2 separate regions of the Homo sapiens genome follow, and region 2 is linked to region 1. The links come from fine-mapping of genetic effects on gene expression. Tissue or cell type: gastroesophageal junction. Region 1 holds a variant in brackets; the other region holds the start of a gene. All regions are shown on one strand. Distances are from middle to middle.

Region 1 (8,103 bases):
CAGAGCCCTCAGAGATGACGTCAGCCAACCCAGCTGGACTGGCCTTACTTCTGCCTTTTTCACCTGTATGTTAAAAAACAAAAACAAAAAAACCCTATCCCTGTGCCCCAAAGCTAGGGCATGTGCGATGCCCAACAGCCTCCACTCTGCAAGCTCATACTGGGCCCTGCCCTCCATCGCCCCAGACAGGCCCACAGACGAGGGCTGGTCTCCTTCACATTTGTGTGGGGGTGGGGGCACGCTTCCTCTTCCTTCTCTCCCTGTCCCCCTTTGGGGACATCCCTCTCTAGGCCTAGGCCATGTCTCCTGGTTCAGGAACACTCTCTCAGGAGGATCTCGAAGTGCCCACTCTAGTCCGCTCCAGTAGCTCCACTCTGGAGCGAGATGGCTGGTAGGTCAGTCCCCATCCTCCTCCCCTCGGCCCCCAGCCTCCAGGCCTGCTGTGGAGGTGAGATCGCCATGGGTCATGACTTTGTGACTTGAGTCCTGGGCATCTTCTGTAATGATGCCTCTTTCTTTTCTCAGATGTTGCCCACAGTTTAGCAAAAAGCTTCGTTCATTTTCAGGTACTCCCCACCCCCTAAAGAATTGGCTGCAACTTGCCAGCCAGGGGGACATCAGGAGAGAAGAGGAAGTCTGGGTTGGGAGGGGCCCAAGTTTTGCAACAGAGTTTCCATTGTTCAGCTCTGTGCTTTCTTGGATTCCCTTTCCAAGATTACCAAGATTTCCTCCATTAAAACTCCTGAGGCACCCCCTGCCCCTGCCCCCCACTGCTGTTTGCTGTACATAGAGGCTAAGTGGGGTGGGGTGGGTGGGTGTGCACATGTGGTGTGTGTGTGTGTGTGTGAAGAATGTATATAGGTAAAGGGGAGTGTGGTCCAGTGGTTCCAGAAAAGGGACAGAACTGTGTTCTGTCCCTAGCTTGACCGCTGGCTCGCTGTGTGGCCTTGGGCAAGTCACTTAACCTCTCTGTGCCTCAGTTTCCCCATCTGTAAAATGGGGATAATAATACTGACCTACCTCACAGGGGTGTTGTGAGGCTTTAACTAAATGTTTTGTAAAGCGTTTTGAGATACAGAGGCAAAGGCGCTAGGGAAGGGCAAAGTATTATTGGACTTAAGGAAGCTGAAATGGTACCATAAATGCTGCTATTCTGAGAGCCATTTTAAACTGCACTGCTCCAACCACCCCCGCTTCTCATCACCAGGACAGCAGGTCGAGAAAATGTCTTTCCTTTCACTTGCTTCTGGGGTTTGTGATTATTCAAGACAATTTTTTCCCCTTGCTGTATCTCCTTCCCTCACCTCCTCGACTTGTTCCCTGTTCTGTTTATGCGGAAATGGCAGAAATGCTTGAGAAATGAGAATGTGTAAGTGGATTGGAAGTTTATAGTATGAAATTTCAATTTTACTTTGTACTGTACATCTTTTTACTTTAGAATTTGCAATAAAGGGTTACGTCAATCTTGTTTTCAACTCTCCTCTTGGACTGGCCTGTCATTCTGTCATTGCCCTCACACTGAAGCCCAAGGTGGACAGGCACCACCACCTCGCAGGACCCCACTCTGTCCCGTGGCGGGGACAGAAGTCTGCGTAAGGGCTCACCGCGGCTCAGCCCCTTAGCTGGGCAGGCAGTGCCCTAGCCACTCCCAGGTGTGTGGGAAAGGTTTGGGACTCCACTCAGCATGTCAGGAGGCCTTGCCTGGCGGGGGGCAGCACCTTGGAGGCGGCGCCCTGCACGTGGGCACACCCCTCTCTAGTGGTGCTGCCTCTGCACACTCCAGCAGAGCCCCAGAGTAGCCCCGAGGGGGAGCTGCACATCTTGTTCTGGTCCCCATCACGTTTTTCAAGCCCCTTATTGCGCACACACCTTTCCTTCTGGAGCTCAAACTTTCAGGTCAGACGGCCGTAGGTTCGAGAACGTGACTATGCCACTAACTAGCTGTGGCCGAGTTTCCGCATGTGTGATGGAGACAATACCTTCCTCCTTGAGTTTTGAAGAGTACATCAAATAATGTATGTAACTAGTTAGCATGAGGCCTGGCACACAGTGCGCAATAAGTGGTAACTCTTCGTGGAAGAATAATTGCAAGATAAGAAGGAATCTGCCTGGCGCAGTGGCTCACGCCTGTAATCCCAGCACTCTGGGAGGCCCAGGCAGGCGGATCACTTGAGCCCAGGAGTTGGAGACCAACTTGGCCAACAAGGCGAAACCCCGTCTCTACTAAAAACACAAAAATTAGCGGGGCGTGGCTGCGCACACCTGTAGTCCCAGCTACTCGGGAGGCTGAGGCAGGAGAATCGCTTGAATCCTTGAACCCCGGAGGCAGAGGTTGCAGTGAGCAGAGATCGCACCACTGCCCTCCAGCCTGGGCAACAGAGCGAGGCTCCTTCTTAAAAAAAAAAAAAAAAGCTAAGCTGACAAGAATTGGGCGGTGCACCTGCCACCCTGGGAGCCTGGTACCTGAGCCCCTCTTCCACCGGCAGTCCCACGGGCTTTGCTGCTCCTTTCCAACGGATTAACAAACTCTCTGCTCTTTCGGTATTTCTTAACGTTTATAAACCGTCCAAAGCACCACTGCCCCAAGACTGTGCTCCCATTTTACAGCTGAGGGCAAGGGCACTGTGAGGTGAGGGAGAATCTGGCCCATCTGCAGCCCAGGCCCCCGGGGGCGCGCGCCGCTCTTTAGGAAGGAGCAGCTTTGTTTCCCACCAGCCCTGCACTGTGGCGAGCGGGCCGGGGCTGCCGGGCGACGCCCGGTCGCCGTCGCCGCCAGTGATCCATAGCGTGAGCAGGACGACCAGCGCCCCGGTGCCCAGCGCCCCCACGAAGCCGGTGAGGAGGCCGAGCGCCAGCGGCCCCGCCCAACCCATGGGGCTCCGCTCGTACAGGGGCTGCGGCAGGCGCTCCACGATCAGCTGCAGGGCGTCCCAGTCCGGCGCGGGGACCGCGGCGCGCCGGGGGCGCGGGGCCGGGGCAAAGGGCACGCGGGCGGCGGCGCCGGGCCGCGGCAGGAAGCGCTGCCCGAACTTGCGCAGCTGCAGCGTCGCCTGCTGGTGGAGGTTCTTGCCCAGCTCCCTGGCCACGTCCGGGCGGCCGCTGCGCCGCAGGGCCCGAGCCAGGCGGTCCCAGGACAGGGACGCGGCCTGGGGGGCCAGCCAGGCCGCCAGCGCCTCCCGGCAGCCGTCGGACACCTCTCCAGGCCCGGCTACCCTGCCCGCCGGGTCCTCGGCCGCCTCTCGCCGCCGCCGCCGGCTCGGAGACCCCGACGTGGTGTTGAGCGGCTCAGGCCGCGCCAGCCGGTCTTCAGAAAGCCGGGACAACTCGGCCTCCACGTCGGGCTCGGGCGCCTCCAGGAGCGACCGGAAATGGCCGCACTCCTCCGGGGTCAGCAGCTCGGCCAGACGGACGGCTGCGTGAGGGCCCATAGCGTCCACGGCCCCCGCCGGAGCCAGCGCCCAAACCCAGAGCGTGAGGACCAAGGCGCTCGCCAGAGTCCGCGCCGCCATCCCTGGCGGGAACCAGGGACCGAGGACTGTGCGGGGACGGGGACGTGGACGGGCTCCGCGCCGGTGATGGGGGAGGGGTTCCGAACGCCCGCGGATTGTGGGAGGGAGGAGGCTCCGAACAGTCGGGAAGCCTAGTGGAGGAGGGGACTGGGGACAAGGGGGCTGCCAACACCCAGCGACGGAGACGGGGACTCCGACATGGCACTTGTTGGAGGGTCTCACGAAACTCAGGAACTGGGGTAAGAGGGCTTGCAACACCCAGGAAGGGGGTTCTCAGCCCCCCAGGAGGCTAGGATTCTGGGCTTTTACATTGTAGCTCCTGCCCTAGGCCTCCTAATAGCCACTAATACCTCAAACTGAACAAGTTACCAACATCTCTTCTAATTCATGTACTCCCCAACCGTTCCCCTTTACGAAAAGCCCTAGACCCCTTGCTCTCCATTAACTTCGATATTCAATCAATTCCTACATTCTCTTTTTTTATTTTCTTTTGTGCAGATAGGGGTCTTGCTGTGTTGCGCAGGCTGGTCTCCAGCTCCAGCCTCCGCCTCTGCCACCACCTCCCAAAGTGCTGTGATGACAGGAATGAGCCACCATGCCTGGCCTCAATTCCTAAATTCTCCTCTTGTCTACCAAATACTAAAGTTTAGTATTTATTAAATGAATCCATCATCCCATTCTCCCACTCCAGTGCAAGTCCAGACCCTCCTCCTCTCTTGCTGGTCCTCCAGCCCCCATCCTTGCCCCCCAACACTGGGGCCCTGCCTACCTGCACTTATTCCATTTCCCCCAAGGAAGCTTGGCTCTGGCTCTCCTTCTGATCGCGGCCTGCACTCCTCCTGCTGTCAGGCGCCTTTGGGAAGCCCTCCCTGACTCCGAGTCACACCCCTTAGTGGTGTCCCCATTAGGGACTCCTCCTATCTGCCCCACAGCACACTGCAGCTCGGCCTTTTTACTGTCTCCGCCAACTAGACTGCAAGGTCCATACATTGTCCCCATGGCAACTAGAGCATAATAAGTGTTCAGTAAAGATTTGTTGAGTCAATGTGTGAATTTTTTGTTTTTTTAAGAGACAGGGTCTCCTGCTGCTGCCCAGGCTGGTCTCGGAACTCCTGGGCTCAAGGGATCCTCCTGCCTCAGCCTCCCAAAGCGCAAGGATTACAGGCATGAGCCACAAGGCAGGGCCATTGTGTGAATTCTTAACTTGCAAATCAGTCCTGTCCTCGGCCCCCTAAACTCCCACAAAGGCTTCATCATAGAGCCCCAGCTCCTAGCAGGGCATGGAAGGCCCTCCATAGTGAGGTCCCCGCTGACTCCTCCAGCCTCACTCCTCCAATTCCTGCCCTCACTATCTTGTAACACAACAAGACTCGTGGCACAGCACGTAAGATGCAGTTTCC[A/G]GCCTCCATACTTTGCCCAGCTATCCCCCTCCCCTCCTGGGTAGGAAGTTTTCCTGACACCCCACCAAGACCACCACAAGTCAGGATCTTTTCTGGGCATTGTTTGTTTGTTTTGTTTTGTTTTGTATCAGAATCTCCCTCTGTCACCCAAGTTGGAGTGCAGCGGCATGATCTCGGCTCACTGCAACCTCTGTCTCCCAGGTCCAAGTGATTCTCGTGCCTCAACCTCCCAAGTAGCTTGGACTACAGGTGTGCACCACCATGCCCAGCTAATTTTTGTATTTTTAGTAGAGACTAGGTTTCACCATGTTGACCAGGCTGGTCTCAAACTCCTGACCTCAAGTGATCCGTCCACCTTGGCCTCCCAAAGTGCTGGGATTACAGACGTGAGCCACCGCGCCCCCAGCCATTTCTTGGCATTCTTAAGATAACCTGTGCATCCTCCACCAGGGCACTCATCTGGAAATTAGAGGATTTATTCAAGAAACATCTATTCAATGTCTTGTATGTACCAGATAATTGCACTAGGTGTATGAATATAAAGACTACTTTGATGTGGTCCCCCATCCCCAGCAGCTTTATCCAGTTGTATTTTTAAATGATCAATTTCTGAGCTTTTCCCACCTAGACATGGGCTCCAGGAATAGCAGCTGTGCTTGACCCCTTCTGTATCCTCAGTGCCAGGCCCAATGTCTGCACACAGTAAGGTGCAAAATAGAGGAGTGGGGGCAGGTGGGTCTGGACCTCCAAGGGCTGAGAGGCTTGTGGTAATGGACTCTGGGGCAGTGCCTTAGAGCCCCCACCTCCAGGCACACTCACATTTGTGTCCTCTTTGCTTTGCAGGGTCTCCCTGATGCTCACGCTGCCTCCTGTATGTGTGCAGTGAGCCATAGCAGGGAGCCTGGGTGCACTACTCCCCTGTGCTCTTGCGCATGCTCAGCAATCTTGCCTAGAGTATTCAAGGACCTAGGAGCTGTGGGTCCAAATCTCTCACTGACATCTCTACAGAGCTTGTTCAGCAAGTGTTCCTAGGTTGTTCAGTCTCCCAGTTTACGATGAGCTGTCACAGATAGAGTTAGGGGACTGATGGATGGGGGGATGGTAGACAAAGGACACCACGTCACCTGAGACATTGGAACTTGGCCGTCTCCACACCCCGCCCTCTATCCACTTTATCTCCACTGAGAATGGAATACAAGTATAACCCTAGCTCTATTCAATGAAGGCTGCTGCAGGTTCTGGATGGCTCCTCCCTCTCTTCAGCAACCCCCTTCCTCCATGCATTCATTTCTTCACTCATTCAACAAACATGTGAGCCCTTCCTTGCCCCCCTATTTTGTGGCTCTGGGGATACAATGAGCCTGCCCCAGTGCTGAATGTCAGAGCTCAGAACGGCAGGAAGGCCCCTTACCCATGGCTTCTTCCCCATAGCCTCAGTGCCCATTCCTGTAGGTACTCACTGTATCACAGTGAGTCACAGGAGTCCTTGCTCCTTGTTACTAGGGGATTAGGAACACCCCGCCCAGGGCACCAGCATACACAGGTGTCCAGACATCTCCCAGAGGACTCCCACATCCCACTGCCCCCGAGAAATCTTCTGCAAACCACATGTCATCGCTTTAATACTGTGTAATACTTTCTTTTAAAATACAGTCTCTTCTGAGGTAGACAGACCACAACTGCAGAGCATCGTCAGACAGGAGATAAATACGTCCATGTACAACACGCAGCAAAATGAGGTAGAAATGGTTACAGCGGGAGGAGAGGATCCCAGCCCCAGTCTGGGTAGAGGAAGGGGAGAGGCCAGCTCGGAAGTCACCCTCCCCACTCCCTGCCCCTGGATTCTTTGGTATGCCTCCCCCCAGCATTACCAGAGCTGGACTGGCCCTTCCCCTACCTGCCCCAGAGCCCATGAGGTAGGTGCCACTAGGCTGGGGGCAGTCTCCTTGTGCAAAGCTCCCCAAGCCTGGGGAACAGGAGGAGCCTAGTAGAGAAAGCGGTGGGGACTCCACCTCCCAGAGCTCCCTGCCTCTTGAAGGGAAGGCTGGGATCCCACCCCAACTTCCCTGACACCCTCCACCCACCCCCACCCCCCAATACATACACACCTGAGAGAGAACCCCTCACTCCATGCTCCCTCCGAGGGTCTTTTGCAGCCTGCGGCTGTGACCCGGCAGCCCACTGCTTCTGAGGCACCAAAGCCCTGTGGGTGGCTGGCTCCAAAGAGGGGGCCAGAAAGCAACGGGGGTGGGGGGGAACAGAGCAGCCTTCTGGTCAGCACTCCTAGGCCAGCACAGGCCCTGGGTGCCAGGGCCCCTGAAAGATCCCCCCCAGACACCCTCCCAGCCAGGGGGGAGGCAGTAGACTCTAGGAAATGCACGGGCAGGCAAGGAACTGCACAGGAGGCTGAGATGGGAGAGAGAAAAAGTGGTGGTGGGGGGGCGTGTCCCCTGCTTTGGACTAAGATCAGAGTTGTGAAATGGGCTGGGGGTGGTGGGAGCAAACTGCTAAAGCCTCATCAAGGGAAAATTGGTGGGAAGGAGAGAAATATGGTTCTTGGAAGGGTTCCAAGCCTAGTGGAAAGTTCAGGCAGGACTGAGACTAAGCCCCCAAGGTCAGAGAAAACACCCCTGCCCATCTCCCTCACCCTCTCCCAGCCCTGGAGCTCCAGACCTAGGACTCCGGGGGAATGGGGAAGGCACATTTCCTCACAGAGCCCCCACAAGTGAGGGATGCTCACTCCTCCTCAGAGCCTCCAGCAGAGATGGCTGAGGTCCAGTAGCTGATTTTGTGGCCAGACTGTCTACCCAGATGGAATCCTCCTAGCATAAGTCACTGGGGACCTCTGCCAAGGCAGGGCCAGGGGACATGACCTTTCTGGAGACTTTCTGCTTAGGTCACCTTCCCATTTGGGCCCTCCCACCCTACCTTCTGGGTCTCAGGAAGGAATTGGGCAAGGGCATCCTAACTCTGGATAGCCCTTCACAGAAAACACTCAGCGGAGGGGTTGGGTGGGGCAGGGGGTGGGGAGCAGCAGGAGAGGAATAAGGCCTCCCTTCTCTCAAACCCCACAGCCCACTCCCCACATTCATGCCTAGGCCTCGGCCCTGGGGAGGAAGCCCTTAGGAATACATTCTGCTTCTGACCAGGAATAGCTGGGGTTTCACTGAGGCCTCTGGGTCTTCCTCTCCCCT
Region 2 (8,094 bases), 250 kb after region 1:
CAGTCTTGAGACCTAGGAGAAGCAGTTATCTGAAGGCAGTTGGAACCTGAAAGCAGGAAAATACTAATGTCCCAGTTCTAAGACAGTCAGGCAGGAGTTCCCCTTACTCACTGAAGGGTCAACCTGTTGGTTCTACTAGGCTTTCAACTGATTGGATGAAGCCCCTCCACACCGGGAAGGGAAATCGGCTTCACTGTCTGCCAATTCCAATGTTAGGCTCATCAGAACACCCCACAGACAAGCCCAGAATCATACTTAACCAACTGTCTAGGTACCCTGTGTCCCAGTCAAGCTGACACGTAAAATTAAGCATCACAGGAAACCACTATGCATCACTATGTATGACTGGGCTTCAGTTATAATATCAAGTAAATCAGAGAGTGGAGTGTCGGGGAGGTGGACTGTATCTACCTTGAAAGGTAGTTGGAAAAATCAGCACAATAGGGCCTATGAGTGCTGGCATTGTACCTAGCAAGGTTCAATGATTGGTAGTAGTGATGATGATGATGATGATGATGATGTCAGGCTAGTGGTCGCAAAGGGCTGAGTTGGAGTGTGTGGATGGCCAGAGAGATCAGTCACTTCCCTTACTCACTGGCAGTCTCTGGGGATGGGCTCTGGCACCTCCTCCACTCCAGGACTGGTTCCAACCTCCCTTGGTCCCTCTCTCAGCTTCTTACAGACCCTTCCCTCTCAATATTTCCTCCTGATTGCCGTCTGGTTTTGTGCAGCCTCCCGAAGAGGTCGCTGGTGTGTAGGGCAGGCAGCTTTCTCTTTCTCCCAGGAGAGGCACCCACACCTGGGATAAGAGGCAAGGGCTGAAAAAGGGCAGAACTGTGGGGAGGAAGGGAAGAGGATAGGGAGCAGATGATGGTGGAAAGGCCAGCCTGAGGAGGAGCTTGTGCAGCCAGGTTTCGAAGAACTGAATGGGAGGGGGAAGCCTAAGGGTGAGGTGGTGACAGTGGTGTGCTGGAGCCAGCTGGCACTGGCCCTCAAGGGCTGATTTTAACCTTGACGATCAAGATGCAATCATCCATCCGTTCTGGACTCTGCATTCATTGATGTCTTGTAGTTTGAAATCACCTATGATAGGAAATGGGCAAATGCTACAAATCAAGGCATTTCCCTTACCAGAGAGCAGGTGTGAAGCATTTATCAGGACACCACTGGTGGGTGGGGGTGTATTGGAGAGTGGTGGTACATAGGAGAGAGTTGGCTGAAGAAGCCAGCCAGAAAGAGAGCTCCCATAGTGGCAAAGAGCTTTCGATTTGAACTCAAGGCTCTGTTATTTACTGAATGACCTTGGGCCACTTACTTAACCTCTCCCCAGTCACTTTCTTTTTCTTTTTTTTTTTTTGAGACGGAGTCTCGCTCTTTCACCAGGCTGGAGTGCAGTGGTGTGATCTCTGCTCACTGCAACCTCTGCCTCCCCGGTTCAAGCGATTCTCCTGACTCAGCCTCCGGAGTAGCTGGCATTACAGGTGTGTGCCACCAAGCTTGGCTATTTTTTTTTTTTTTGTATTTTTAGTAGAGACAGGGTTTCACCATGTTGGTTAGGCTGGTCTCGAACTCATGACCTCAAATGATCCACCTGCCTCGGCCTCCCAAAGTGCTGGGATTACAGGCGTGAGCCACCATGCCCGGCCCAATTTCTTATCTATATTGCAGGATTGATTAGTATCAGGTTTAAATTTATATGTACACATATATGGTATTTAAAATCATGACCTTTCCATTCCACCTAATAAATGTTATCTATTATCGTTTTGGGAAATAAAAGCATGTGTTAGAAAAATCAGCTTTTTTTTTTTTTTTGAGACAGGGTTTCTCTCCGTTGCCCAGGCTGGAGTGCCGTGGTGCAGTCTCAGCTCATTGCAACCTCCACCTCCCAGGTTCAAGCAATTCTTCTGCCTCAGCCTCCCAAGTAGCTGGGATTACAGGTGCCTGACACCACACCTGGCTTTTTTTTTTTTTTTGTATTTTTGGTAGAGATGAGGTTTCACCATATTGGCCAGGCTGGTCTCAAACTCCTGACCTCGAGTGATCCATCAGCCTCGACCTCCCAAAGTACCGGGATTACAGGCATGAGCCATCACACCCGACTTTTTTTTTTTTTTCTTTTTGAGACAGGATCTTGTTTTGTCATTCAGCCTGCAATGCAGTGGCGTGATTATAGCTCACTGCAGCTTCAACCTCCTGGGCTCAGGTGATCCTCCACCTCAGCCTCTGAAGTAGCTGGGACTACAGGGGTACACCAACACGCCCAGCTAAATTTTTAATTTTTATTTTAAAGATGGGAGTCTCACTATGTCGACCAGGCTGGTCTTGAACCCCCGGCCCCAGGTGATGCTCTGTCCTAAGCCTTCCAAAATGTTGGGATCACAGGCGTGAGGCACCCCAATGGGCCAGAAAATGAGCATGGTAATCCCCAGCTAACACCTTAAGAATGCCTCCTGGCCGGTCGCGGTGGCTCACGCCTGTAATCCCAGCACTTTGGGAGGCCGAGGCGGGCAGATCACGAGGTCAGGATATCGAGACCATCCTGGCTAACACGGTGAAAACCCGTCTCTACTAAAAAAAATACAAAAAAAATTAGCCGGGCGTGGTGGTGGGCGCCTGTAGTCCCAGCTACTCGGGAGGCTGAGGCAGGAGAATGACGTGAACCCAGGAGGCGGAGCTTGCAGTGAGCCGAGATAGCGCCACTGCACTCCAGCCTGGGCGACAGAGCGAGACGCCGTCTCAAAAAAAAAAAAAAAAAAAAAAAAAAAAAAAATACTGCCTCCTATTGGAGGTGGGTGCATTAACCGAGCTCTCGAAGCCCTGTCTGCTCTGGGCTTACAATCTACATGGAGAACCAAATGCGCTCCAGGAAGTTACACAGCACTAAAAATACACTTGTATTCATATTAGACTTTACAGGTCACAGAAATCTTTCATATGAGTTATCTCCTGTGATCCTCACAACAGCCACCTGTTTATAGAGAGCATCAGAAAGGATGAGTGATGTTGAGGGTCACGCAGAGAAGCAATGGCCGAATTACTAGCCTCCGAAGGACTGTCACCAGATTGGTCACCATGGGGTATCAAGTAGTGCTGCTGCATAAAGGCAACACTGAGAGATGAAGCCCCTTTCTCCAGCATCTGTGTGGGTGGAGGGCCAGGGATCCCGTCTGTTACGCACATTCAACAAACTCAAGTTTTGCCATCCACTGGGCGTCCTGCAGTACAGCGGTGTGGGCTCATCTCCAGGACCTCTCTCTACGGGGTACGCCCCTCATCTTGCGGTGATCAGTGTTCCTTCCAGACCTCTCAGTCCGGACTGAGTTGGGCACCGCGTCAGCGTCTCCCGGCCAGGCTCGCCGCCGATGACTCCGCTCGGCCTAGGGAGGCGGCCGAGAGCCCGTAGGGCTCCTCCTTCCCTCCAGTCTCTATGGCGGAAGTGAGTTGTACGGGCCGAAACACCACAGCGTTCTCGGTGGTGGGCTGAATGGACTCGTCCACATGAGGGGGATCTTCATCACCATCAACTCTTAAAATCCGAGACATAACCACGAAAGGAGCAGCCCCCAGATCAGAGAGCAACGCATGACTATCTGCGTGTGCTTCTGTGACTACGCGGATGTTGTGGGCGGCTACATGCGTGCGGGGGCCCGGCGAGCTGGGCAGGTGCCCCCTCCGGGGCCGTGGGATCTGGTGAGCTTCCCGGCGCGCGGGGGGCGGTGCGGCTTCCGGTCCCGGCTCAGCCTCCGACCCAGGTGGTCTGGAGCCTGCCGGGAGAGTGGTGGCATCTGAGAGGCTGGTCGTGGACTGTGGTTGGGGGAGGTGGGAGCTGTTTTAACCGTGTGCCCCCTCTCCTGTGCCGGCGTGGGCATCCCCCGGGGCAGTGGAACGCGGGCGCTCCTCCAGCTTCCGAGTCCAGCCAGCCTGGGCGCGGGGCGCCGCCCCCGAGACACCCGAGGAGTCCGTTCCTCCCTGGTTACGTGGACTGTGGAGGTTCGCGCGTAGTGGCGGCGGGGGATACGGGACCCGGGCGGGAATTCCTTCCTGCGTCCGTCCCGAGTCTCTTGATATGGAGCCAAGTAAGTTTTCTGGTTTTGCTTTTAGCTGGTCTCTTGTGGCTCAGCGCCGTGCGGAGGTTGAAGCGTACCTGCGGAGGTCGCACCAGGGCGTGAGGAGGAGGAGGAAGGGCATGAGCCGAGCTTGAGGAATCCGTGCTCCAAACTCTACACTCAAGGTGGGAATGGGCGCACCCTGTGCTCCAGCCAGGCTTGAGAAGGCGGCTGTTAGCCTCTGCCACTCGGGGGGACAAGAGGGACGAGACTTTCCAGACCCTACTCTGGTGGGCCCTGCTTGCTCACTGCTCACTGTGTGGGGCAGGGGACAACAAGGTTTTCACAGACCAAATGTGGCAGCTGTGGGAAGGAGAATGGGGTTGGTCAGGACTGACTTCTTGGAGGAGTGGATCCTAAAATAGCACGTAGAATGAGGGAGGAGCCCAGGCTTGGGGCACAAGTGAGATGTGTGGCTTGTGTGAACGATTGCGGGGGACACAAGAGGGAGAAGTCGTGGAAGAAAGGGAGCCGGACCAGAGCCGGGAGTCTCTAGATGGGAAGAAAACTGCTGGATGGAGTAAAACTGGAGGGCAAAACGAGCAAGAGAGCCCTTCTCCTTCTTGATCCAAGCATGTAGGAGAAACTAATCCAGCAACCCCTGGAAGAACCTGGAATTCCTGGGTTGGGCTCAATTGAGCAGTTGTTTTGTAGAAGGTACTAGGAATTACCATTATAGTGATGAATGGAATATAGTCTCTGCCCTATAAGCAGAATATAGGAATTGTTTGCCTAGTGGTAGAGACAAAAACAAAACGTGATGGTGCTTGATAGTACAGGTAGACGCGAGCTGATCGCCAGCTGAGAGGCAGAGCTGGCCTGATCTCTGTGCGGTCCACAGACCGTTGCCCTGTATCCTGTGCTGAGCAACAGTTTAAAAGGGGCAGACACAAACTGAAATATACTTTTTATATTCACCATCTGTCAACCAGATGAGTGAAATATACTTAGAGGAGAGCTGCTAGGATTCCATGCAGATAAGATGTGATGTGGAACAGACATGTTTTTGAGGACTGGGGACCTTCAGCCTGTAGAAGGGGTGAGGGGGTGGTGGAATAGCTGCCCCTAAATAAAAACTCACTTGTGGAAAAGAGGTGAGACTTATTTTGTGTGGCTTTGGGTACCAAAACTAAAACTAAAAGTGGTTTGAAGCACTAAGAGACAGATTCTTCAGCAGAAAGAATAACTGGACTGGGTGCGGTAATCCCAGCACTTTGGGAGGCCGAGGCGGGTGGATCTCTTGAGCTCAGGAGTTCGAGACCAGCCTGGGTAACATGGCAAAACCCTTTCTTTACCAAAAATACAAAAAATTAGCCAGGTGTGGTGGTGTTCGCCTGTGTTCCCAGCTGCTTGGGAGGCTGGGATGGGAGCCTGGGAGGCAGAAGTTGCAGTGAGTAGAGATTGTGTCACTGTATTGCAGCCTGGGTGATGGAGTGAGACCCCATTTCATAAATAAAATAAATAAATAAATCAGAATAACTGAATAGAACTTCCTGAACATTGACTGGTTGTTGTGAGAGCTAGTGAATTCCCAGTCAGGGGAGGTTTGCAAGCTGAATACTCTGAGTTATAAGGAACTTGAAGCTCCCTCTCCCTCTGGGCATGTATTTAGTTATTATGTTCTAGTTCTCAAGTCTCTTGTTCTCTCCTTCCTACTCTCTCTACCACTGCTGTGTTATAGCCTTGCATCATCTCTTGGCAGTAACAATGTAATAATGAATTATAGCAGCTAATACTTAGTGGATATTTACCATTTGTCAGGTACTTATTTAAGTGTTTTATACATGCTAGCTCATTCAGCCCTCAACCCTTTCAAGGTAGCCATTATTATCTCTTTTGTATATGTGGCAGATAGGTGTTAAGCAGCTTGCCCAAGATCATGAGCATGGAGCAAGTGGCAGAGCTGGGGTTCCATTCCAGGTTGTCTGGCTTTCAAGTCATCGTTTTCAACCACTATTCTACTGTATTTTACATGTGTTACCTTAATTCTCACTACTATCCCCATTTACAGATAAGAAGTTCAGAGAGGTTGAGTGATTCGCTTAAGGTCATAGAGCAAGATGTAGATGAGGTGGGATTCAAACCCAGGACTGTAGGACATGAAAAACCGCCCACACCTGATTATGCTGCTTCTGTAACTACATCTACTGTAGTGGTCTTTAACTGACTTCCGTGCCCAGCCTTTGTGCCTTAAATCCACAAGTTTTTACCCTGGAGTCTGTGGATGTGGGTGTCTCTAGAAATAGGTGAGATTTGGTATATGTGTGTGTGTGAGAGTCATGTTTTTAAAGCCCAGTCTTCATGGCTTCATTCACTTCTCAGAGCAGTTTGTGACCCCAATACGGTTTAGAGCCATTCTTTGCCCTTTAGCCAAAGGTACTTGTCTTTTTTTTTTTAAATTTATTTTATTACTTTGTATTTTTGTTTTTTTTGAGACAGGGTCTCGCTTTGTCACTCAGGCTGGAGCACAGTGGCATGATCTCAGCTCACTGCAGCCTCAGCCTCCCACATTTAAGTTATCCTCCTGCCTCAGCCCCTCAAGTAACTGGGACTACAGGCGCCTGCCACCAGGCCCAGCTAATTTTTTATATTTTTGGTAGAGATGGGGTTTTATCATGTTTCCCAGGCTGGTCTTGAACTTTTGAGCTCAAGTGATTTGCCTCGGCCTCCCAAGTTGCTGGGATTAATGTGAGCCACCACACCCGGCCTAGAGGTACTTTTTTGATGCACAGATTTGATCTTGGCTTAGTGATGCATTGACTCTTCGCTGCTTTTAGGACAGAGTCCAAATGCCTTAACCTGTTCATTCAAGGTCCCAGGAAATCAGACTCCAATCTTTCTGTACTTCTTACTCCCACCCTGTACTCTCTCCGTGGTGATAATGTTTAGTTGCGTGCTTTTTCTTCATCCTGTCAGCCTGAGGGCAGGGGCCGTGCTTGCCTTTGATGTCTAGTACCTGACAAATGTTGCACAGTGAGCATCTGCTGTAAACTACATTGAAGGCTGTAAAATGGAATCCCAGCCTGTCATTTGGACTGATAACTTTGAAGCTCTTGCACTTTCTGATCCTGAGACTTGATGATTCGTTGATAGTGTGTGCTGCCAAAATGCAGAGAAGGGCCAGTGGAGGCAGAGGCTGAGCTGAGCCTAGAAGGAAGTGAACAGATAACACGTGGACTATTCTTGTCAGCATTCTGACCTGGGCTCCTTTTGCAGGGTGGCCCTTGGGTAGGGTGAAGATCCCCTGTCTTTATCCTAGTTCCACACCTTGGTGTGGGTTACTGGGTGCAGGATGAACTGTCGCTCGGAGGTGCTGGAGGTGTCGGTGGAGGGGCGGCAGGTGGAGGAGGCCATGCTGGCTGTGCTGCACACGGTGCTTCTGCACCGCAGCACAGGCAAGTTCCACTACAAGAAGGAGGGCACCTACTCCATTGGCACCGTGGGCACCCAGGATGTTGACTGTGACTTCATCGACTTCACTTATGTGCGTGTCTCTTCTGAGGAACTGGATCGTGCCCTGCGCAAGGTTGTTGGGGAGTTCAAGGTAAGGGTGTCGGGGAGTTCAAGGTAAGGGTGTGGCATAGCAGATGGCAGGGGGGCCTCGAGTGCTCCTCCACTCCAGCTTGGTGTTGAACCAGCCTTCTCTTCCTGAGTGCGTGAATCGGGTTCTTTCAGGTTCTGAGAAACAGATGTGTTGAGAGCTCCTCTTCAGGGGAGGGCGCGCGGGCGCGTGTGTGTGTGGTGGGGGAGGGAGAGACTCATAAATGTGCCTGGGGGAAAAGGGAGAGCAGGAAGCTGAGCAGTGTTGGCGGCCAGGTCCCCTGGGGCCATCCTTGCTTCTGTGGTCTTGACCTCTCTGGTTACAGCTCTCTCTGCTTCTGCTTCCACTTTTCCTTTCCCACATGAAACTCCCCCAGAGGACGGCTTGCTTGGTTCAGGTGGCTGCCATCCAAGATGGGAGTGTCCCTTTTGGTGGTGTGGCATT

The links. PIP is the estimated chance that this variant, and not a neighbour inherited with it, causes the effect.
Region 2: ATG101 starts here. The variant in region 1 is fine-mapped to the expression of ATG101 in gastroesophageal junction (GTEx, PIP above 0.99).

The regions. Positions count from the first base shown.
Region 1 is chr12:51,811,385-51,819,487 of GRCh38, forward strand. It overlaps SCN8A (sodium voltage-gated channel alpha subunit 8), which reads left to right. Exons shown (of 27, transcript NM_001330260.2): 27 at 1-1,480. TMDD1 (transmembrane and death domain 1) reads right to left here and starts at 3,541. Exons shown (of 1, transcript NM_001386737.1): 1 at 2,537-3,541. The coding sequence starts at 3,509. The coding sequence ends at 2,556. It overlaps FIGNL2 (fidgetin like 2), which reads right to left. Exons shown (of 2, transcript NM_001384995.1): 2 at 6,515-8,103. RefSeq lists a silencer at 3,053-3,132 and an enhancer at 3,241-3,740. The variant A/G (reference allele first, on the strand shown) is at 4,910.
Region 2 is chr12:52,066,250-52,074,343 of GRCh38, forward strand. ATG101 (autophagy related 101) reads left to right here and starts at 3,729. Exons shown (of 4, transcript NM_021934.5): 1 at 3,729-3,993; 2 at 4,105-4,234; 3 at 7,326-7,653. The coding sequence starts at 7,402. RefSeq lists enhancers at 3,195-3,484, 3,362-4,077.